Linked DNA regions of Homo sapiens: region 1 is linked to region 2. Evidence: fine-mapped expression QTL. A gene starts in region 2. The other region holds a variant in brackets. All regions are shown on one strand. Distances are between the middles of the regions.

Region 1 (11,307 bases), 420 kb after region 2:
AGACGAACAGGCGGTGGATGAGGTCGTGGCTGCCGTGGAACCTGGACCGGATCTTCTCTCTTGTGGCCTGTGGGGCAGCATGCGTGGCTGCTGGGGCCGCCTCTGGCCCCATCTTGTCTGAGGAGCAGGACCCAGCTGTGGAGCTGCTGCATGGAGAAGGAGATACCGGTGTGTGGGGTGGGGCATGATAAGGGGCCGTGGAGCCCGAAGGTCACTGGTCAAGACAAAAGTCTGTGTCCTCGCAGACGCTCACCCCACAGGCGTGTATCTGTTGCCCAGATACACAACTTTCCTGTAACTTCACCTAAAATGTCCTCAGTGTAACATGCTCACCACATATACCAGGTGGTACAACAGGGCTCTGAGCCAGTCCCGGGCCTTTGATTTCTGCTGGGCCTCCTGGAATTGACAGCTGGTGGCGACTCACCCACTGAGGCTGTACTCCTGGCTTAATATCGACCGACTGCCCCTATGGAAGCGTCAACTCACCTTTCACACCATTTCTAATGGCCTGAGTGTCAGGCAGCCCCCAAAAATATCTCTCCCCACCCCAGCCCCTGAAGCCTGTGAACGTGACCTCATTTGGAAAAGGGGTCTCAGCAGGAGCAATTAAGTGAAGCATCTGGAGATGAAGAGATTGCCCTGAATGATCCGGACAGGTCATAAGTCCAAAGACAAACGTCCTTATAAGAGACAGAAGAGGACACAGACACAGAGGGCAGGAGAGCCCATGTGACCACGGAGGCTGAGACCGGAGACGCGGCCCCAACCCAAGGAACACCTGGAGTCCCCAGAAGCTGGGAGAGGCGAGAGGAGCCTGCCCTGGAGCCTGCAGACGGAGTGAGGTTCTGCCAGAGTTTGCACTTCGGGCCTCCGACTGCGAGACAGTTTCCAGGGCTTAGGCCAGTTTGCGGGGACAGCAGCCTCAAGAAACGAATACAGGATCCCCCCGCCCCCACCTACACTTCCCTGCCTGGAGTCAGAACAGGGCCCGGGACCTCCAGGGGCCTCTGCACAAGACCCCACAGGCCTCGCTGGCCTCCCTGGGCATCGGTTCTGACTTCCAGACCTCAGGCTCTGTCCGTGGATGCCCTTGGAGGCTGAGGGACCCTCCGTGCATGGGGTCTCCATCTTCCCAGCAGCTGCGTCCTCAGCTTTCATCAGATTTGCTACTCAGGGGTTCCACGGTGACCCTATAAATCGTTCACAGCTGGGCCTGTACTAACTCCGGAGGTTCACCTCGCCCAACTCTAGGGGTGCACCCACTGGCCCTCTCATTTTAAACTAATTTATCTCCTATCTTTTTGTCCCATTTTCTGGGAAATTTCCCCCAACTCGTTCTTCTAATTTTACTCTTGACGTTTAAATTTCTGCTATCAAGTTTTAAATTTACTGCTGTTACTGTCGTTTCATGGATGCAAAATCTTTTCTCTACCTAGAAATATTCGTGATAATTTTTTTCAGTTGCCACTGGCATCCTGCACGGCCTCTTTTGGAGGGCTTGGCTCATTTATTTGGCCGTGTCTCATGCCGAGCCTTGCCCCAAATGTTCGGGGATCCTCGTCGACCTGTGCAAAAATAAGAACAGTGTGGGTGCAACCACAGGAGCCTTCACCTTGCTGGTGGGAGCGTCAGCTGGTGCAACCACTTCGGAAAAAATGTTCGCACCGTTTCAGTAAAGCCAGGGCTGTCTACACTCTGGAGCCCGGTGGCCTCTGTTGCCGGCATACACTGGAAACGCGCATCTGCGTCTGTCTGCAGAGATGCAGGGTCTTAGACGCGGTGCTGGGGATTCCAGTGAAACGCTGGGCAGGATCCCAAGTCCGCCAGCAATGGAATGGAAGACCCACCGTGATCTAATCGCCCACCAGCAGAGGCCACGGAGGCGGAGGCGAGCCAGCCACAGCCCCGCCAACGCGCACGAATCCCACGTGGCGTGAGTCTTTTCACAGACCGTGGGAAACATGCACAACTGCCTGGTATCTAATTTAGGGACACAGCCTCGTGACGTAAACCCTGCAGAAGCACAGAGGCGTGGCGCACGTGAGAATTCAGGGCAGCGGGCTGCGGCAGAGCGGGGGAGGAGGCTGGAAGCGTCCCTGGAGCTGCACGGGGCCCCCTCCCTCATGGCAATGTGCTAACATAGCTGAATATTTGCCGGAACGTGGGAGCACGGTAGGAGGCTTAGGGGGCCTGGGCCCATGGGACGGGATCCTCTGCTGGGACCCCAACAATGCTCCGTGGCTCTCCCCTCCCAGGTGGTCAGGGTTCCACAGATGAAGCCCCTACCTTCAGCTTGGGGGTGTGGGCCTTGCTGCCCTCTGCCCTGGGAGCTGAATAAGGGAGGGGCCTTCACTGTCCAGGATGTCAGCTTCCACTCGGTACCCCCAGCCTCATCAGAGCCTTACCCAAAGGAACTGAAATTTGGGACTCGGACAGATACTTGCACGCCCACGTTCATAGCGGCCAAGAGACGGCAGCAACTCAGGTGTCTGTTGGCAGAGGCGTGGATAAACCAAATGTGGTCCACCCATACAACAGAATATTATTCAGCCTTAAAAAGGAAGGAAATTCGGATCTAGGCTACAGCCACGGATGAATGTTGGCAAGATCATGCTGAGTGAAACAACCCAGCTACCAAAGGATGCGTCCTGCTTGAGTCTCCGACACGAGGTCCTGAGAGCCGTCACGTTCATACAGATGGAAGGTAGAACGGTGGGCGCCAGGGTGGGCAGAGGGCGGGGAGTCGGGGGGAGTGAGTGATGGGGAAACAGTTTCAGTTTGGGAAGATGAGGACGTTGCGGAGATGATGTTGGTGACAGTTGCACGGCACTGAGTGTGTTCAATGCCACGAAATTGTACGCTTAGGAAGGGCTAAATAGTAAACTTTATGCTACATATATTTTACAAAAATTAAAAATATAAAAAAAAAAGAATTGGGGCAGGGAGAGAGCAGAGGCAAGGGAACGGAGGCGGCAAGTACATGGCAGAAGGCCGGATTGGCGTGGCGCCCGACACAGAAGGCTCAGGGGTATTATTGCCCAAAACCACTGAACTGTGTGATTTAGAAAGGTGAATTTTGTGGTATGTATGTTACATATCAATAAAGGCTTTTTTTTAAAGATCACGCCGGGCGTGGTGGCTCATGCCTGTAATCCTAGCACTTTGGGAGGCCGAGGCAGGCGGACTGCCTGAGTTCAGGAGTTCGAGACCAGCCTGGGCAACACGGTGAAACCCCGTCTCTAATAAAATACAAAAAATTAGCCGGGCGTGGCGGCGTGTGCCTGTAGTCCCAGCTACTCGGGAGGCTGAGGCAGGAGAATTGCTTGAACCCGGGAGGCGGAGGTTGCACTGAGCTGAGATCGTGCCACTGCACTCCAGCCTGGGTGACAGAGTGAGACACCATCTCAAAAAAATATAAATAAATAAAATAAAAATTAAAAAAAAGATCATTTGTGTTTAGATATGGTAGCAATAAACTGAAAGTGAAATGAAGAAAACAATCCTTAGCCCTTTACAATAGCATAAAAAAGATTAAAATACTTAGAATAAATTTAACAAAAGAAGTACAAGAATCATACACTGAAAACAACAAAACATTGTTGAAAAATATTAGAAGACCTACATAAATGGGAAGACATCTCGTGTTCACAGGTCGGAAGACAATATTGTTGAGACGGCATGACTCCCCAAATCGATCTACAGATTCAATGCAATCCATACGAAAGTGCCAACTGCCTTTTTTTCTTGCAAAAATGGACAATATGATCCTAAAATTAATGTGGGAGTGACTCGAGGGACCCAGAATAGCCAAAAGAAAAAAAACAAGTTGGAGGACTCACACTTGTGATTTGCAATGTGGCATGAAAGAGCAGGAATCAAGACTGTGCAGCAGCAGCATAGGACCGACATACAGACCAATGAGACCGAGAGTCCGCAAAGAAACCCATATGCTTATGGGCAGTGGATTCTCAGCAAGGGTGCCAAGACCAACCAGGAAAGAATAGTCTTTTCAACAAATGCTGCCGGAAAACCGGAGACACACATGCAAAAGGATGAAGCTGAACTCTGACCTTATACCACATACAAAAATTCACTCGAAATGAATCATATATCTAGATGTCAGAGCTACAACTCAAAGATTCTCT[C/CT]TTTTTTTTTTTTTTTTTTTGAGATGGTGTCTCACATGGCTTACCGCAGCTTTGACTTCCCTGGGCTCAAGTGAGCCTCCCATCTCAGCCTCCTGAGTAGCTGGGACCACAGGCGTGCACCACACTGCCCGGCTAATTTTTGCATTTTTAGCGGAGATGGGGTTTCACCACGTTGCCCAGGCTGGTCTTGAACTCCTGGACTCAAGTGATCCACCCACCTCAGCCTCCCAAAGTGCTGGGATTACAGGCGTGAGCCACGGCGCCCAGGCTTAAAATTCTTAAAAGAAAACATTGGAGTAAATCTTTGTGGCGTTAGGCTAGGCCACAGTTTCCTAGACATGACACCTAAAGCATGGGCAACAAAAGAGAAAACAGATAACTGGACTTCATCAAACTGAAGACTTTCTGCTTCATAGGACACCACCAAGAAAGTGAAGAGAAAACCCACAGAATAATTTTTGCAAATCATGTGTCTGATAAGGACATAGTATCTGCAATATAGAAAGAATTTTTACAATCCAACAACAAAAAGACCAAAAAAAAAAACACTACTGAACAAATGGAAAACGGATTTGAATAGACATTTTTCCAAAGAAGATATACAAATGGCTAATAAACACATGAACAGATGCCCAACATCACTGTCAGTCAGGAAATGCCAAAAAAATTACAATTAAATACCATTTTATCTATTAGGACGATTAGAATGTTCCCCCCCCCCTCAAAAAAAAAAAACCCAGAAAATATGAAGTTGTGGTGAGGAAGGTGAGGATGTGAAGGAACTGGAATCCTCCTCTCTTCCTTATGGAAAAATAAAATGGCACAGACACTTTGGAAAACAGTTGAATGGATAGACAAAATGTCTATCTATATAATGGAATAAGTTTTCAGCCACAGAAAGGAACGCAGCACTTATACATGCTACTGTGTGGATGAACACTGAACACATCATATTGTCATCCCAGCCCTGTGGGAGGCCGAGGCGAGAGGATCACTTGACATCAGGAGCTCGAGACCAGCCTGGCCAACTTGGTGAAACCCCGTCTCTACTGAAAATACAAAAATTAGCTGGGTGTGGTGGCGCATGCCTGTAATCCCAGCTACCCGGGAAGCTGAGCAGGAGAATTGCTTGAACCCAGGAGGCAGAGGTTGCAGTGAGCCAAGATCGTGCCATTGCACTCTAGCCTGAAGACAGAGCGAGACTCCGTCTAAAAAAACAAAAACAAAAACACACCCATCGTGCTGAGTGAAAGAAGCCAGTCACAAAAGATCACAAACTGGCCGGGTGCAGTGGCTCACACCTGTAATCCCAGCACTTTGGGAGGCCAAGGTGGGCGGATCACGAGGTCAGGAGATCGAGACCATCCTGGCTAACACGATGAAACCCTGTCTCTACTAAAAATACAAAAAAAATTAGCCAGGCATGGTGGCGGGCGCCTGTAGTCCCAGCTACTCAGGAGGCTGAGGCAGAAGAATGGCGTGAACCCGGGAGGCGGAGCTTGCAGTGAGCCGAGATCATGCCACTGCACTCCAGCCTGACAACAGAGTGAGACTCCTTCAAAAAAAAAAAAAAAAATCACATACTGTATGATTGATTCCATTCACATGAAATGTCTAGAACAGGCGAAACCCATAGGGGCAGAAAGCAGAACCGTGGTCGCAACAGCTGAAGGGGGAGGGGAACATGGTGACTGCTGATGGGGAGGGTTTTTCTTTATGGGGTGATGAAAATGTTTTGAATTAGACAGTGATATTGGCTGTACAGCCTCATGGATGTACCACAAATTACTGAGCTGTACATCTCACAAACAACAGAAGAGAATGTTTTTCTTGTAATCGCCCAGCAAACTCATATGCAAGAAATAGCTTATAAGCTAAATGTCCATCAACAGTGGGTTGACTCAATACATTAGGTCATATCCCTATGGTGAAACAATCTCCAGAAGGATGGTCCACTGGAAATGTTAAAATATGAAATGAAAAATGTAGCATTTAAAAAATTAGAGGCGAGGTGTAGTGGCTCATGCCTGTGATCCCAACAATTATTGGGAGGCTGAGGCGGGAGGATCACTTGAGGCCAGGAGTTCAAGACCAGTCTGGGCAACATGACAAGACCTCTGTCTCTACAAAAAATCCAAAATTAGCCAGGCATGATGGTGTGCACCTGTAGTACCAGCTACTCTGGAAGCTGAGGTGGGAGGATCGCTTGAGCCCAGGAGTTCAAGGGTACAGTGAGCTGTGATCACACCACTGCACTCCACTCCAGCCTGGGCAACGAGCAAGACCCTGTCTCTTAAAATAAATAAAATAATAAAAATAAAAATTAGAGATGTCATATGTACATAAATGACACACTGGGGAAGATACTCAAGGTAAGGCATTAATCTTACACTTACTTGAGTAGTAAGATTACAGGTAAATTATCATTTTCTAAAGTCTCATCGCGGATCAAGTATTGCTTTTGTGATCAGAAGAGATGCCATTTCAAGAAGAAAGGAAAGTGCCTGCTGGCAGCAGATGGCACCCTCGGGCCCTGCCTGTGGCGAGGAACTTGTTTCCCTGTGAAAGGAGAAGCCCATGGGAAGTATTCAGCCCCGCAGCTCCAGCCCCTTGGACCAACACCCTGAAGCTGGGAAGGCTATCTGGACAAGCATCCTGCTACTGAAGCACCCCTGGAGATGAGAAATCAGGGGAAGGGCCCTGACGTTCAACAGAGAGTTGAGTGTGGCATAAGAACAATGGCTTCTACCAGCAGGTTGAGACCGAGGCCAGGCCAAGGCTGGCCGATTGCCCACGGGTAGGTCAGATCGCTGATGGCCATCTCAACCCCAGACACCCTTCACTTGCCACAGGAAAGGCCCTCTCCTGCCTCCCTGCCCTGGTTGGCTGGAAGCTCTGGTGGCGTGGGAGGGGGAATGGGTGGACAGAGAGAGCCAAGGGGCCCCATACAGAGATGTCACAGGTAGAAAAACCAATGAGGTACTGCCCAAGGGAACCGGCTGGGCTTGGAAGGGCCAAAGGGAACAAGAGAGCAGAGTGGGGAGGTAGAACCCAGGATTTCACCGAGAGCATGAGCCTGGGTCCTTCTGGGTCAGCCATTCCTGGGGCCATGTGGATGGGTGTCTTCCTTTGCTTCCTGCTGCTATAACAGAGTACCACAGTCTAGGTAATTTATAATGAACAGACATGTTTCTGGCTCACAGTCTGGAGGCTGGGAAGCCCAAGGTGGAGGGGCCCCATCTGACTAGGGCCTTCTTGCTATGTCACCACATGGAGGAAGGCATCGCATGGGCAAGAGAGAGGGGAAGGGGGCCATGCTCACCCTTTATAAGGACCCCACTGCAGCAATAACAAACCCACTCTTGCAATAACATCAATCCGCTCAGGAGGGCAAAGCCTTCATGACCTCATCACCTCTTTAAGGTCCCCCCTCTCAACGCTGTTGCAGTGGGGATTAAGTTACCAACACATGAACTTTGGGGCACACATTCAAACCACAGCAGGGGGCACTGTTTGGATGCCAGTGGCCCAGGAACACTGCCTTTGGAAGGGTGTTTATCCCCTGTGGCCAGTTGCTGAACAGACAGGGTAGGGCCATGAGGAGGACCTCAGGGGTAGATCAGACACTATGTGTCCCCCAAAAGCCAAGTCTAGTGGGGGAGCCACACACATTAACAATACAGAGCCGAGAAGTGAGCTGGTGCCCAGCGGGTCCATCCCTGTGGTGAGGAAGGGAACAGTACGGGTGAGATACAGCCACAGCTCAAGTCACAGAAAGACAGGGAGCCATGAGAAGCAGAGGCTAGAAGAGTGAAGGGCACCTGCCCTGCCAACAGCTTCCTGTGTCTCACCACAGAGTCTGAACCCTTGTCACTGATGTTCTCAAGTCAGTGGATCAACGTCACTTCAGCATGTTCACCCGGATGTCTAAAAGTCCAGCCACCTTCTGCAGCTGCCAGACACTCCCGCACCGGCTGCCTGAATGTTGCTTCCTGCCACTCTCTTACAGAAGGCAGCAAAAACTCCCTGCAACAGCCCCACTTCGGTTTGAACTACTATGAAATGTCATTCTCTGGTAAAGAAAGGCAGTGCAATTCTAAACAGTCACATCAATACCAAAGGCTGCCCAGCCTGTGTCTTCAGCTGTGTCACAGTTAGGCCACAGGACAGTGGCCAGGTTTCCAAAGTGCTCCTCTTGAACAGCACACAGGGGGGATAAATGGCTGATGTCATCATTGGGGTGGGAAAAGTGGTGAGGGGAGCCTCTGAGATGTTGGGAACATGGAACACGTCTGAATTCAGCAATTGGATAGAGCAGAAGAGGGAAGTTTACTGAACTTATAATTTTAATTCCAATTACTATGGAAAAGAAAGACCATAGCAAAGCCCAAATGAATCTGATGCAGCAAATTTAGCAAGTGAGTATGCAAACAGAAAGACAGGACTTTGCCACCTTGAACCTCTAGGAGTCTGTGAAAGAAGAGAATGCCAACTTTGGAAAGACTAACAGCATCACAGTATGTTTCTCATTATGACATCAGATACATTAATTTTTGAACTCTTGAAACCATTTGCAAAGGCTAATGAAGAGAAAAACAGCCTGTAGTCCCAGCTACGGGGAGGCTGAGGCAGGAGGATCCCCTGAGCCCAGGAATTCAAGGCTAGCCTGCGTAACATAGCAAGACTCTATCTCTAAAGAAAAATAAATAAAAAACAAAAACAAAGAACATCAAGAGTGACTGGTAGGCTCCAGAGGCAAGGTTTAATTGTGCTTGGATGTGGGAAAATTAGCAGCTCGGGCATTTGTACAACCACATACCAATTCTAATGAGCCACCTTGGGCCCTGACGCAAATGGTGGGCTGGCTGCTTCTTGTAAAAGTCATCCATCCATCCACCCACCCACCCACTCATCCATTTACCCATCCATATATTTACCTATCCATCCATCCACCCATCCATTCATCTACCCATCCACCAATCCATGCATCCATCCATCCATCCACCCAACTAATCATCCATCCATCTATCCACCCATGTACCCACCTGTCCACCCACCAATCCGTCTACCCATCATCCAATCTTCCACTCATCCACCCACCCATCTACCCACCCACCCATCCATTTATCCATCCATCCATCCATCCATCCATCCAATCATCCATCCACCCATCCACTCATGCACCCACCCATCCACCCACCCATCCATCCACCCATCCACTCATCCATCCACCCATCCACCCACCCATCCATCCACCCATCCACTCATTCATTTGCCATCCATCCATCCACCCACCCATCCATCTAATCATCAGTCCATCCATCCATCCATCCATCCAACCATCCAACCGTCCATCCACCCATCCATCCATCCATCCATCCATCCATCCACCTGCCCTACAAACATGCACTAAGCACCAACTATGATCCAGGAATTGCACAGTTCAGCCCTAAGGAGCTCACGATTTGATGGCAGAGATCAATAGGTGAACAGTTAATTATCACACACGGAAAGTGTAACAGAGGAACCATCAAGGGTGTTGTTGTGGGAGGTCAGAGGGGAGACTCCTCACTCAGGCTGGAGAGAGGTCTGGAGTGCCAGGGAGGGTTCCTGGAAGGCGCAGCATGAGGACAGCTTGAATGAAAGCCAAGAGGTGGGAAGCAGCCGACAGACTGTAGGGAACCCCCTGGTGATGCTGGGAGAGACCAGGCAGAGGTTGAGGCTAAGCAGAGGCCCACTGGGAGGGCTGGACAGTTCGGACCTTGGCCTGTTGGTCAGTGCCCCCAGAGGATGCTCCACAGAACGCAATTCCCTGTAGGCTACACTTGAGGGAAAAAGAGTTTGAGGAACAGAGCACAGGTGCTCTCTTTCTTGGAGCCCCCGCATCCACATTCATTGACATCAATCGACAGCTCAGGCTCGCTGTGGAGCATGTGGCCACACAAGACCGGATTCACGTGTGTACGCAGTGGAGGGAGTCAGCCAGCCTGCAAATGAGTGTTCAGAAATGAGACCATTTCCCACCGTGATAAAGGCCGTGTCGCCCAGGCTGGAGCACAGTGGCGTGACCACGGCTCACTGTAACCTCAAGCTCCGGGCCCCACATGATCCTCCAACCTCAGCCTCCCAAAGTACTGAGATTACAGGTATAGGCCACCGTGGCTCGCCTGGGGCTTTGAAGACCATGATGGGGAGGAGGAGAGCGCGACGGGGCACAGTGGTGGACAACCCAGCTTTCAGAGGAAGCATTTTGGTGGAGATTTCACCAATGAGATGGAGAGGACCTCAGCAGCAGGAGCCCAAGATGGGCTGAGCACAGCCTCCCAGGAGTCAGAGGTGAAGGCCTTGCTGCCCGGTCACACTGGCCACCAGGTCAGGACAATCCCACAGTCCTGGACGCCTCTGGTTCCCCAGAGGAGTTGGAGCCTGCTGGGACATCTTGTCTCCTCTTATGGTGCCTCACAAAGACCTCCGGGGGGCTGAGTCTGCAATGCACAAGGCCTGGCTTTGACTTCCTCTGTGAGTCCTGGGATCAGGGAGGGCTGAGACACCCTTCCAGGAATCGGCTCTGGAACTGTCTGCCAAAGTCGTACCAGCTCAGCTCAGGCCACAGCGGAAACCAACAGCAGGTAGACCCCTCTTCTTGGCAGGTGCCCTGAGTCTAGTACGGCAAGGATTTAGCAGGGAGGCGCGAGTGTGCTGTTTGGGGTTGAATTGGGGCCCCCCAGCAAGCTCATATGTTGAAGTCCTAACCCCCAATACCTTAAAATGTGACCTTATTTGGAAACAGGGTCATTGCAGGTGTAACTAAAGTTAAGATAAGGTCATCCAGGAGTAGGGTGGGCCCTAAGCCAACTTGACTGGTGTCCTTACCCATGGGGAAAATTTGGGTGCAGGCCCACACCTGGGCAGAACCCCACGTGGACTGAAGGCAGGGACTGGAGTGATGCTTCTGTAAGCCAAGTACACACCCAAGATGGCCAGCAAGCCCCCTGAGGCTGGAAGGCAGCCCAGGACAGATTCTCCCTTATGGCCCCAGAAGGAACCAGCCCTGCTGACACCTTGATCTCGACTTCTGGCCTCCAGAACTGCAAGACAACAAACGCCCTCGTGATTTAACCCACCTTGCCGCGGTGCTTCGTCACAGCAGCCGGGGGAA
Region 2 (11,307 bases):
CCGGGAGCCAGCAGGTAGCACCCTGAGATGCCCAGTGACCTTGAACCTCCAAGCAGTGGGGTTGCAATGAGTCAACAGCCAGGGAGCAGCAAGTGCAGCTTTAAGATGGGGGGAGCTCACTCCAGCCGGCAACGAGAGCCACCGTGAGAGGACGAACAAGATGGGGAGGGCAGGCACTGACCCTGCTCCTAGTGGACCGATACGTCACTTCACCTCATTTAACAGGAGGCAACTCTCCTGGTTCTGTGGGGAAGGAAATTCCTACTACGTGCCACATTTAGGGCTTGTAACAGTCCGGTCTGTGAACTGGGAGCTGGGTTAAGGGGAAAATGTTGGCTATGTTCTCATACACAGCAAGTTACATTTTAAGTTAAAATTCAAAGCACAGCACACGTGAGCATGCCAAGGCCCTTCTCACTCCAGCTGAGACTAGCTTTGGCCCCCACCTTTCTCCACATGAAGAGGGCCCAGCGCATTCTCCGCTATCCTCCCCACACCATGGCACCTTCAGCCCCTCCACCCCTGCCCCGGCCAGCTCCTGTGCCTCAAGGGCTCCGCCCGGCAAGCAGGCAGGCTGGCAGGTCTCCCAGAGTTCCCTGATCTGTCCCCCAGTGACCCTACCTTCTCTCTAACACTGCCTGTCCCACTGGCTCCCTTACTAGGCTCTCCCCAAAACCTGTTCTGACGGCTTCTGTCCCCAGCTCTCCAAGGAACCCCCAGTCAAGGCCGTTCGGGGTGATGGGGATCATTGCTCCACGTCCCTCACGAGCACAGGTGTCATCTGTGCCCAGGCCCTGCTGGGAGCCCTTCTGTTCTTTTTTCCAACACCAACGAATTCTCCAACTGGGAGTCCAACAATTTAATTCCATACTGACACTACCCAGAGTTAGTGCAGACCTCACAGGGTACGGGCTCAGTCCCACAAGACTGCCCCCACTCCATGTGCCCAGGCTTACCCAACTTCAGCTGACCACACATTTGAGGGTTCCCATGACCGCCTTGGTTTTGATCATTCACAAGAATGACTCAGATGTCAGCAATGGGCTCTACTTACTGTCACAGTTTATTATAAAGGGTACCTGGTACCTAGGAACAACCAGACAGCATGGCCAGGGAGGTCCCGAGCACAGGATCCTTTGTCCTGTGGAGCTAGGTGGACGCCAGTGGGAAGCCTCACCAGCCTCCTCACCCAGAAGTTCTCATCAAGGCTTCATGACTGATTACAGTATTGGCCCACTGGCCATGGGGACTGAACTAAATCTCCAAACCCTCTCGCCTCCCTGGAAGGGGCAGGAAGTTCCCACCCTCTAATCACAGCATGGCCAGCACCTCAATCTATCTAAGGGCCTGCCTGGAGTCACCTCATCAGCATAAACTCAGGTGCAGTGATAACGAATAACAGAAGACACTCCCAAACTCACGCCTGTAATCCTAGCACTTTGGGAGGCCAAGGCAGGTGGATCGCTGTTGAGCTCAGGAGTTAAGCCTGAGCAACAGAGACCCTGTCTACAAAAATGTTAAAACATCAGCTGGCAGGAGGATCGCTTGGAGGCTGTGGTGAGCCATGATCAAGCTACTGCACTCCAGCCTGGGTGACAGAGCAAGACCCTGTCTCAAAATACAAACAAATGAAAAAAGACACTCCCATCATTCAGGAAACTTCCAGGGTTCTCAGCCCTCAGTGCTGGTGCCAGGATCAGGTCAAAGAACAAACAAACCTTTCTTCACCTGGCTTCACCCTTGCCACTCCTGGGAGAGCCTCCCTACCTGACCTCCACCTCCTCCCCAGGCAATCTCTTCCCTGACTTGAATACACACGCCCCACAGGTCTGATGGGCACGGCACAGTCCACACCTCCAAGAACTCTCAACTAGCGCCCCTCCTCATTCTGCTCCTCCCCAAGTCCTCCCCAGTTTCAACAAATGGCACTGTTGTCCCCAGGCGGCTCAGGCCAGAGGCCACCTCTCCCACACAGCCCTCACTGTTGTCCCCAGGCGGCTCAGGCCAGAGGCCCCCTCTCCCACACAGCCCTTGGAGTCAGCCCTGCTTCTGCTCGTAAAGCGACTTCCTCCCAAAAAGGACAAATGGGGAGGTGGGACAAGAGTAACTGGGCAGTGAAAAACCTGACAAACACCACTTCAGCCTACTGATCAAGGTCAACATCAACAGTGACAAATCATTTGGACAGCATGGAGCCTCGGCGGGATATGATAAGGATGCTTCACCTCTGTGGTCTTCCTCCTGAAAAACCATCTTTCCCAGCTTAATTATGAGGAAACATCAAGAAATACCAGTAGAGCAGCACCCTACACTCCACCTGGGCAGTACTCCTCAAAGCTGTCAAGGTCACTGCAGACAAGGAAAGCCTGAGAGGCAATCAAGAAGGGTGGTACAGATGGGTCCTGGGACAGAAAAAGGACCTCAGAATGGAGAACGGGAGAGTAAAGAAAATCTGAATATGTTATGGACTTTAGTGAACAGTAACAGATCAAGGTCAGTTCATTAACTGTGACAACGAACCCTACTCATCTAAGATGTTAATAGCAGGGGCCTGCAGCACTCCACTCGGTGTATCACTCATCAGTTCAGGGACCTCCTCCACAGTCCAGCCCTGGGTCTCGCTGGCTCTGAAATCCCTACTGTTTCTACAGCAGACCTGCCAGTGTCCCTGTCACAAAGCACAGTAGTAACTACAGAAGACATTTGTGTTCCTGAAATGACAGAATCGCACATAAAAAGCTAATTATTATTATTATTTATCAAAAATCTGATAATAAGCACGAAGTGTTAAAAGTACTTTTATCACCATCAAGAGGTCCAGAGAGAGCTCTAACATCTAACACAGCAACTGGAAAGACCACATGCTGAGCTCCACCTTCAGACTGTGCAGTTCCACCACTCAACATCCTCTCACCACTCCAAAAGTTTCAGTGGCTAACCAGCCATTATTGTAAAAATTACAAGAATTGGCCAGGCGAGGTGGCTCACGCCTGTAATCCCAGCACTTTGGGAGGCTGAGGTGGGTGGATCACGAGGTCAGGAGTTCAAGACCGGCCTGACCAACATGGTGAAACCCCATCTCTACTAAAAATACAAAAATTAGCCAGGCATGAGGGTGTGCGCCTGTAATCCCAGCTACTCAGGAGGCTGAGGCAGGAGAATCGCTTGAACCTGGAAGGCAGAGGTTGCAGTGAGCCGAGATCATGCCACTGCACTCCAGCCTGGATGACAGAGCGAGACTCCATTTCAAAAAAAAAAAAAAAAAATTACAAGAATTGGGGGCCGGGCGCGGTGGCTCACGCCTGTAATCCCAGCACTTTGGGAGGCCGAGGTGGGTGGATCACCTGAGGTCAGGAGTTCGAGACCCGCCTGGCCAAGACGGAGAAAACAGTCTCTACTAAAAATACAAAAATTAGCCAGTCGTGATGGCGGGTGCCTATAATTCCAGCAACTCGGCAGGCTGAGGTAAGAGAATCACTTGAACCCAGGAGGTGGAGGTTGCAGTGAGCCAAGATCACACCACTGCACTCTAGCCTGAGCAACAGATTGAGACTCTGTCTTTAAAAACAAACAAACAAACAAACAAAAAAAAACAAGAATTGGGAGGATACATTCAGGGCAACTTCAATCTATCTCTTTGGGGGTGGGGAACAGAGACAAGAATATTGAAGCTGGGTGCCTGGGCATGGTGGCTCCTGTAATCCCAGCACTTTGGGAGGCCAAAGCAGGAGGATCAGTTGAGCCTTGGAGTTCAAGACCAGGCTGGGCAACATACCAAGACCCTGTCTCTACAAAAAAACTACAAAAAAAAAAATTAGCTGGGTGTTGTGTGGCACAACTAACAACTTGGGAGGCTGAGGCAGAAGGATAGCTTGAGCCCAGGAGTTTGAGGTGCAGTGAGTATGATCGCACCACTGCACTAATTATTTTACTTGAGTCCCTCTTAGCAAGTTTTATGTTTATTCCAATTTTACAAATAAGGACATAGACTCAAATAAGTTGGTTAATTAGAGAGAGAGAGGAGGTGGGCACACCCTGGGACAGCATTCACTCCAGACAGCACCTGAGGCTAGGGGGGCTAAAGCCACGCACCCTGAGGACCCTCAGCGGCTCCGGAGTCCCCGTGTTCCCCGGGTGCCGGTCGCGGCCTAATCACACCACAGGGGTTTGTAGGTGCTGGCATCACCTCATCAGTGACGGACCAGGAAGGCTCCTGCAGCCCAGCAGGTCCTGCTCGCCGGTGTCTGCCCTGCCCACCCAGTCTCGTCTCCGGGACCCCAAACGTGACCAAAGGGCACGGCCGTCCTCGTGCGTGGACACGTTCCACCAAGCTTACTCGCGCAGGGCGCGCCAGGGCTGCCCAGCCCTTCAGAATTTTCCCACTGTCTCTGAGGCAGTGACCCGGGGGACCCGGCCGCCTAAGGTCACAACACACGGCAGAGGCCCAGCGGCTCCGCCCGGCGCTGGCGGCCCAGCCCGCGACGAGACCCGGGGCCCCACGGTCCCGCAGGGGCTCCGGAGGCCGGGACCACCGGGCTCCCCGCATCGCCGTGACAACCAGCCCGAACCCGCGGGTCGTCCGCGCTCCCGACCCACCAGCCGGGAGCCGGCCCCGCCCTGGGGTGCCCGCCGCTTACCCCGCGGGACGGTGTACCGAGGCGGCGGCGGGAGGCGGGCGGGCGCCCGGCCGCGGCAGCTCCTCAGTAAGATGGACGCCATGTGCTCGGGCGCGGCGGCCGCTCCGGCCTCCTGCGCTGCCTCCTTCTCCGCGGCGGCCGCGGCTCTTCGCCGTCCCGGCGGCGCTTCAGACCCGGCCCGCGCGGACGGCTGACAGAGGCGGCTGGCCTCGGACGGGAGGCGCTCTCCTCAAGGACCCGGCACCAGCGGCGGCCTTGTCCCGGCACAGACGTCCGGAGGCGCGGGGCGGGGCGGCCAGGCCGCGGCTCCCATTGGGCCCCTCAGCGCCCGCCGCTGGCCAGGTGAGGGGCGGACCGCGCCACCGCGGACTACCGGTTCCGGCGTGCACCGGGACGGCCTGCACGCTGGGGTGCGGACTACCGATCCCGGCGTGCACCGGAGCGGCGGACTACCCTGAGGCGCGGACTACCGGTCCCGGCGTGCACCGGGGCGGCTGGCTCCTGGGGCTCGCTGCATCCTGGTTCCCGTCGTACCGTGGACGCCGGGGCTCGCAGCGTGGCGGCCGCAGGAGCTGAGGGAGTCGGCCGCGCTTGCGCGGGGAGTGTCTTTTCGTCTCCGGGCGGCGGCAGCAGCGCGTGTGTCCGGAACTTTTCTGGGACTAAGTCCTGCACCCACGAGTAGAAAACGGCTCCTGGGAGCTTGGGGCTCCAAGGGCAAGTCAGGGGACGCTGGGGATGGAGGGGCGCCCTCGACGCCCTCGGCCGCGGTCCCTCGCCGGCCCCCCTGCTCTGTGGCTCTGCCCTCGGCGGTCTGCACTCTGGCGCGCGCAGCTCTGAGTGCCTCTTCCCTGCGTACCGGGCGGCGCTCCCCAGATACGGCGCTGCTCGGCGTCGGGAGTCCCCGTCACCACTGGGGGGACGGGAGCGCAGGGTCCCGCCCCGAAGGACAGGGCCATGCCGGCCCCTGGAGGCGAGGGCACTAGGCCGGGTGGCGGCGCAGCCAGCATAGCGGCCCCCCATCCCGGCACACCGCGTCCTCCCGTCTGAGCGGGAGGGGTAGATATGGGTCCTGCGTTGGCGCGGGGGGACCCCTCGTTTCGCTCTGGCCTAAGCAGCCCCTGGGGTCCCGCGCGCCGCAAGAGCGCCAGACTTCCTAACCTGGGCCATACCCTGTCCGCTCCACTTCCCAGTCCAAGAAGGAACAGCCGAAGCCCAGGACGCCAAGGACCTGGCTCGAAGTCTCCAGAATTCCCGCCAGAGCTGGGCTGGGCTCGCGGACCGCTCATGCGCCGTCTCCCAGGAGCCTCCCCCCAGCCCAGTTTAATAGCCGGCCCTGACCAGTCCAGGGGAGAGAGACCGTGCAGCCTCCCAGCAGACCGTGACCTCTGAGCTCCACCTTCCCCTTCCTTCCCTAAGATGAGGATCCCTGAGTTGGGGCAGAGAAAGCAGGCAGGGAGAAAAATGGGGACCTGCGGCGCTGGGGGCCCAGCTGGTGGAGATCTCCAGCTAGGAGATCCCCAGCACAGCACTTGCCCTGCCCTCTGTCTTGTTCAGGGATGTAACCTGCCTCCTCCTGCTTCTCCGCGGCACCTCAGGGCACCGCCTGGGGAGGGTCTTGTAGTGCACACTCAGCATCTCTGTTCCCTGGAGCGCATGGGGTGTGAAACGCCTGATGCCAGCCAGCTCCCCAGTCTTGAGAGGCTGGTTGAATGGCACATCTCCCTAGGAGGCTCCCTCCCCAGGGTCCCCTCTGCCCCTGCTGTCCATGCAGTCGGTCCTCACCCGTCAGGAAAACGTAGCCTGCTTGCCTGGGTGGTTTTCCCCATCAGGAACTGCCAGGTACTGGGCCTGGATGGGCTTGAATTCCCCATCTCAGTGGGAGAAGGGGGCATTGTTTAGTGCAGGGCACTTTGAAGCCGTCTGTAAGTCCCTGTGTCCACACCGGTCAGTGGGCACTGCAGACATCAAATGCAGACAGAGTTTAAGCACAACTAGGCCTGAACCTAGGCCTGTGCTGCCAACAGACATGAAGGGGCCCCTTTTCCACCCATCCCCCAGGAGGCAAGAGGGGGATACAGAAGGATAGTCCTTGCCTCCCCACCCAGGGTTGGACCTGAGCTGGAGTGGACAGTTGGTCAGGGTCAGAAAGAACTGGACTTTTTATGGCCCAGCTGTAGGACTTTTTATGGCTCAGCTGTAGGACTTTTTATGGCCCAGCTGTAGGACTGTATGTCCTAGTCCTGGTCTGGACATTGGTTCTGAGCACCAGATGACCCTGCCCGATGCTGGCTAGGGAGGGTGACCCCGGAGAGGGTGCAAGAAACAGTGCTCCTCTCGTTAATGCTGTGGGGTCCCAGGTGTCCCGGCAAGGCCAGGCAGGAGGTGGTGACTGCCCCATCTGTGCTAGTGCCTGTTTACAGGACTTTGAATGACACTGAAAGAGGAGGGAAGCCCTCCCCGCAGTCTCCACCCTGCCCAAAGTGCTGGGTGTGAGGAAATGTGGAACATACCCTCGCCTGCAGTTGGGATGACCCACCATCCCTGGACCAGAACAAGGAAAGCCTGGCAGCGGAGAGCCAACAGCAGGACTGACACAGGCAGGTGCTGTCTGCGATGCTCGTGCAGCCCAGGCAGGGTGGGATCTTAGATAAATTTTCAACAATTAAAATAGCTGTGATCAGGCGCAGTAACTCACACCTGTAATCCCAGCACTTTGGGAGGCCGAGGCGGGCTGATCACGGGGTCAGGAGATCGAGACCAGCTTGGCCAACATGGTGAAACCCTGTCTACTAAAAATACAAAAATTAGCTGGGCATTATGGTGCATGCCTGTAATCCCAGCTACTCGGGAGGCTGAGGCAGGAGAACTGCTTGAACCAGGGAGTCAGAGGTTACAGTGAGCCAAGATTGTGCCACTGCACTTCAGCCTGGTGACAGAGCGAGACTGTCGCAAAAAAAAAAAAAAAAAATAGGTCAAAAGAAATAAGTAGAAATCTGGCATCCAGCCAGCTGACTGTGCACCCTTAAGGCTGGAATGAGGCCTTCCAGTCCCACATCTCCATATGCAGCAGAACAAGGGCACAGAACCATGGCGCAGTGGTTTAATAGCAAGCACTGTTTTTAGCCTTTTTCTCTTCTTTTTTTTTTTTTGGTTGGGGAAACTTCCTTTTCCTTCTCCCTATGTTCCTCACAAATCACATATAACCTTCCATAGTCACTCGGTGTATATACAAGTGACAGTAGAGAAACAGGGCAGGAAGCCCAGGCAGCACACGGGCCCCAGTTAGGGAGGTTAGGGATCCCGTTAGGGAGGGCGGTTAGGGATCTAGTTAGGGAGGGGGCTAGGGACTAGTCAGGCAGCTTAGGGACCTAGTTGGGGTTGGGACCTAGTTGGGGGGTTTAGGGATCTAGTTAGGGAAGGGGGGCTAGGGATCTAGTTAGGGAGGAAGTTAGGGATCTAGTTAGGGAGCTTAGGGAACCAGTTAGCGAACTAGAGGAAGACTTAGAAGGGTTGTGTGCTGCACTTGACCCATGCTCTGGTGAAAAGCAGCCAGAGTTGCATTTGCCCAGATTGGGGATTTGCTGGGAAGTATGATGAAGGAAGAGAGACAAGGATGTTTGCAAGAGACTATGAGGCTTGTCCCAGGAATTGAAACTGGGGAGAAGGAAAGGGAAGAACAGGAGGGGGCAGTGGGAGACAGCAGAAGATAGCAGGATCACTGGCCTGTGGGCTGAGAGGGGTTTGGAGCCAGGTACCAGAACAAGTAAGCTGACGAAAGTGGGATGCTCCACACAGGGTGCTTGCACTTACTGGTGATGGCAGGGGCTAGGGTGACAGCCCAGGAGAAAAACCTTGGATACCAGGTCACCTTGCAGCTGGGAGAAGCTTTAGCCAGGTACATGCAGCAGGAGAAGTGGAGGTCAGCCTCCAGCCTCCAGCCTCCTCTCACCCCACTGAGGAACCACCTGCAGATAAAAGTGGTGGTTTTGGGCCAAGCACAGTGGCTCGCACCTGTAATCCCAGCATTTTGGAAGGCTGAGGTGGGCAGATCACGAGGTCAGGAGATCGAGACCATCCCGGCCAACATGGTGAAACCCCGTCTCTACTAAAAATACAAAAATTAGCTGGGCGTGGTGGCACATGCCGGTAATCCCAGCTGCTTGACAGGCTGAGGCAGGAGAATCACTTGAACCCTGGAGATGGACGTTGCAGTGAGCCGAGATCACGCCACTACACTCCAGTGTACACTACACTACATTGCATTTTTTGAGACATAGCTAGACTACGTCTCAAAAAAAAAAAAAAAAAAGTGGTGGCTTTGGGCTGGGACATGGGAGGGCTATGCATTTGGATTTTTTTTTTAATTGAAATAGGGCCTCACTCTGTTGCCCAGTCTGGGGTGCAGTGGTATGATCACGGCTCACTACAGCCTTGACCTCTGGGCTCAAGCGATCTTCCTGCCTCAGCCTCCTTGAGTAGCTGGGACCACAAGCATGTGCCACCATGCCTGGCTAATTATTTAATTTTTTGTAGAGACAGGGTCTCACTATGTTGCCCAGGGTGTTCTTGAATTCCTGGCCTCAAGTGAGCCTCCTGCCTCAGCTTCCCAAAGTGCTGGGATTATAGGCAAGAGCCACCATGCTTGACCTAAATTTGTTATTTGTTGTTGTTGTTTTATTTAATTTTTAAAAAATTTTTTTATTTGAATCAATGGAACCCACTATATATATGTGTATGTGTGTATATATATGTGTGTGTATATATATATGTATATATATGTATATGTATATATATGTGTGTATATATATATATATATATATATATATATATTTTTTTTTTAGACAGGGTCTCGCTCTGTTGCCCAGGCTGAAGTGCAGTGGTGCAAAATCATAGCTCACTGCAGCCTCCACCTCCCGGGCTCAAGGGATCCTCCCACCTTAGCCTCTAGAGTACCTAGGACTATAAGCACACGCCACCATGCCTGGCTAATTTATGTATTTTTTTGTAGAGATGGGGTCTCGCCACATTGTCCAGGCTGGTCTTGAACTCTTGGGCTCAAGCAATCCACCTACCTCGGCCTCCCAAAATGCTGGGATTACAGGCTCCCTGCTCCCTTTTGGATTTCCACTCTGGGAACAGCCAGCTGCCAGGTCATGAGGACACTCAGATAGCCTGTAGAGACCCACATGGGGAAGAACTGAGGGTAGTCCATTATGCAGCAATAGATAACTAAGACAGGATGTGCCTAGAGAATTTGCTCTAGGACACAGTCCCAGTTCCCAGGGCATGGGTCCTGGTGTCTCAGCTGCATACCAAGCCTGTGGGCTGAGAGGGGTTTGGAGCCAGGTACCAAAGCATTCATGAGGGACATTGATGAGGTTAGAATGAGGTCTCTCCATGCAGGCTGGGCCAGAATTCCTATGGCAGTTGCTTCCTGTTAAGTCCAGGTGGCCTCATCCTGAGCAGGTGCAGCCCACTCCTCAGCCAAGGACAGTGGGACATCTCAGGCTTCCCTGCAAACACTTTCCTCTCCAGGGCCTTCCCCACAGATTCCAGCTGTGCTACTGTCCCCAGTTCAGTGGGGTGCTGCACACTGGTGCTCTGGCTGGGCTCCACCTTCTGCACATATATTTTCTTTTATTTTCTTTTCTTTTTTAATTTTATTGTACTTTAAGTTCCAGGATGCATGTGCAGAATGTGCAAGTTTGTTACGTAGGTAAACGTGCGCCACGGTGGTTTGCTGCACCTAGATTTGCTTTTTGTTTTTTATTTTTTGAGACAGAGTCTCTGTCACCCAGGCTGGAGTGTAGTGGCGTGATCATAGCTCACTGCAGCCTTGAACTCCCAGGCTCAAGCAATCCTCCTGCCTCGGCCTCTGGAGTAGCTAGGACTACAGGCATACGCCACCATGCTCAGCTAATTTTTAAATTTTTGTAGAGATGAGGTCTCCTTATGTTGCCCAGGTTGGTCTCCAACTCGGGTTCAAGCCATCCACCTGCCTGGGCCTCCCAGAGTGCTGGGATTACAGGCAGGAGCTACTGTGCCCAGCCAGATTTGCTTTTTAGATCCTTCTACATTTGTGGGGAAACTGGTGAACTCTGAATTGACCCTGGTGATCAGTTAATAGTAAGGGACCAGTGTTGGTTTCCACCAAGCTACCCTGGAAATGTAAGATGTTACCATTAGGGGAAACCAGGTTGGGGGACTCCCTATGATCTTCGCAGCTTTTCAGTAAATCTAAAATTATTGCAGTAAAAAACAGTAAAACATCTGGCTGGCTGGCAGAAGGGGAGGCAGCCTCTGTCCTGCGTGGCTGTCCCAGACTGGCTGGGGTGGCACTCTGGCTGTCCCTGGTCAGTCCCTAACTCAGGCTGCCAAAGACGGTCGCCAGTCTAGGGAAGAAGCGGCCCAACGCGCTCCCCAAAGACGTCGCTGCAGGCACAGGGTTTAGGAAGAACTTTTATTTTCTTCCTTCTGCTGCTGTGGGTTTTAATTTCCTGCCATTTTCATAATTAAAAAAAGAAGTGCTATTTTAGCACGAAACAATGTTTCTTTAGCCAAAGCCAGAGTGAGTGGGCAGCAATGGCCGCGCGCCCTGCTCTGGGTGGTCCCGACCCCGGGGAAGTCCCTGTGCAGAACGGGGGCTGCGGGGGCGGCAGGAGGAAGTGGG

Alleles and levels. Alleles are on the strand shown, and positions count from the first base shown. SD is a standard deviation of normalised expression in the study named.
In carriers of allele C in region 1, the expression in prefrontal cortex of the gene that starts at base 4,925 in region 2 tends to be higher than with CT alone (large effect, 1.0 SD a copy in BrainSeq).

Evidence for each region. PIP is the estimated chance that this variant, and not a neighbour inherited with it, causes the effect.
Region 1: its variant is fine-mapped to the expression of LETM1 in prefrontal cortex (BrainSeq, PIP 0.95).

The regions. Positions count from the first base shown.
Region 1 is chr4:2,274,071-2,285,377 of GRCh38, forward strand. ZFYVE28 (zinc finger FYVE-type containing 28) reads right to left here. Exons shown (of 13, transcript NM_020972.3): 9 at 1-146. Among named protein-coding and RNA genes, the nearest start is that of MXD4, 18 kb to the left of the region's middle. RefSeq lists enhancers at 6,486-6,987, 6,988-7,487, 8,256-8,315. The variant C/CT (reference allele first, on the strand shown) is at 4,149.
Region 2 is chr4:1,851,232-1,862,538 of GRCh38, forward strand. LETM1 (leucine zipper and EF-hand containing transmembrane protein 1) reads right to left here and starts at 4,925. Exons shown (of 14, transcript NM_012318.3): 1 at 4,638-4,925. The coding sequence starts at 4,719. RefSeq lists silencers at 3,391-3,567, 4,362-4,551, 4,562-5,121, 5,522-5,741 and enhancers at 4,133-4,634, 5,272-5,341, 6,011-6,806.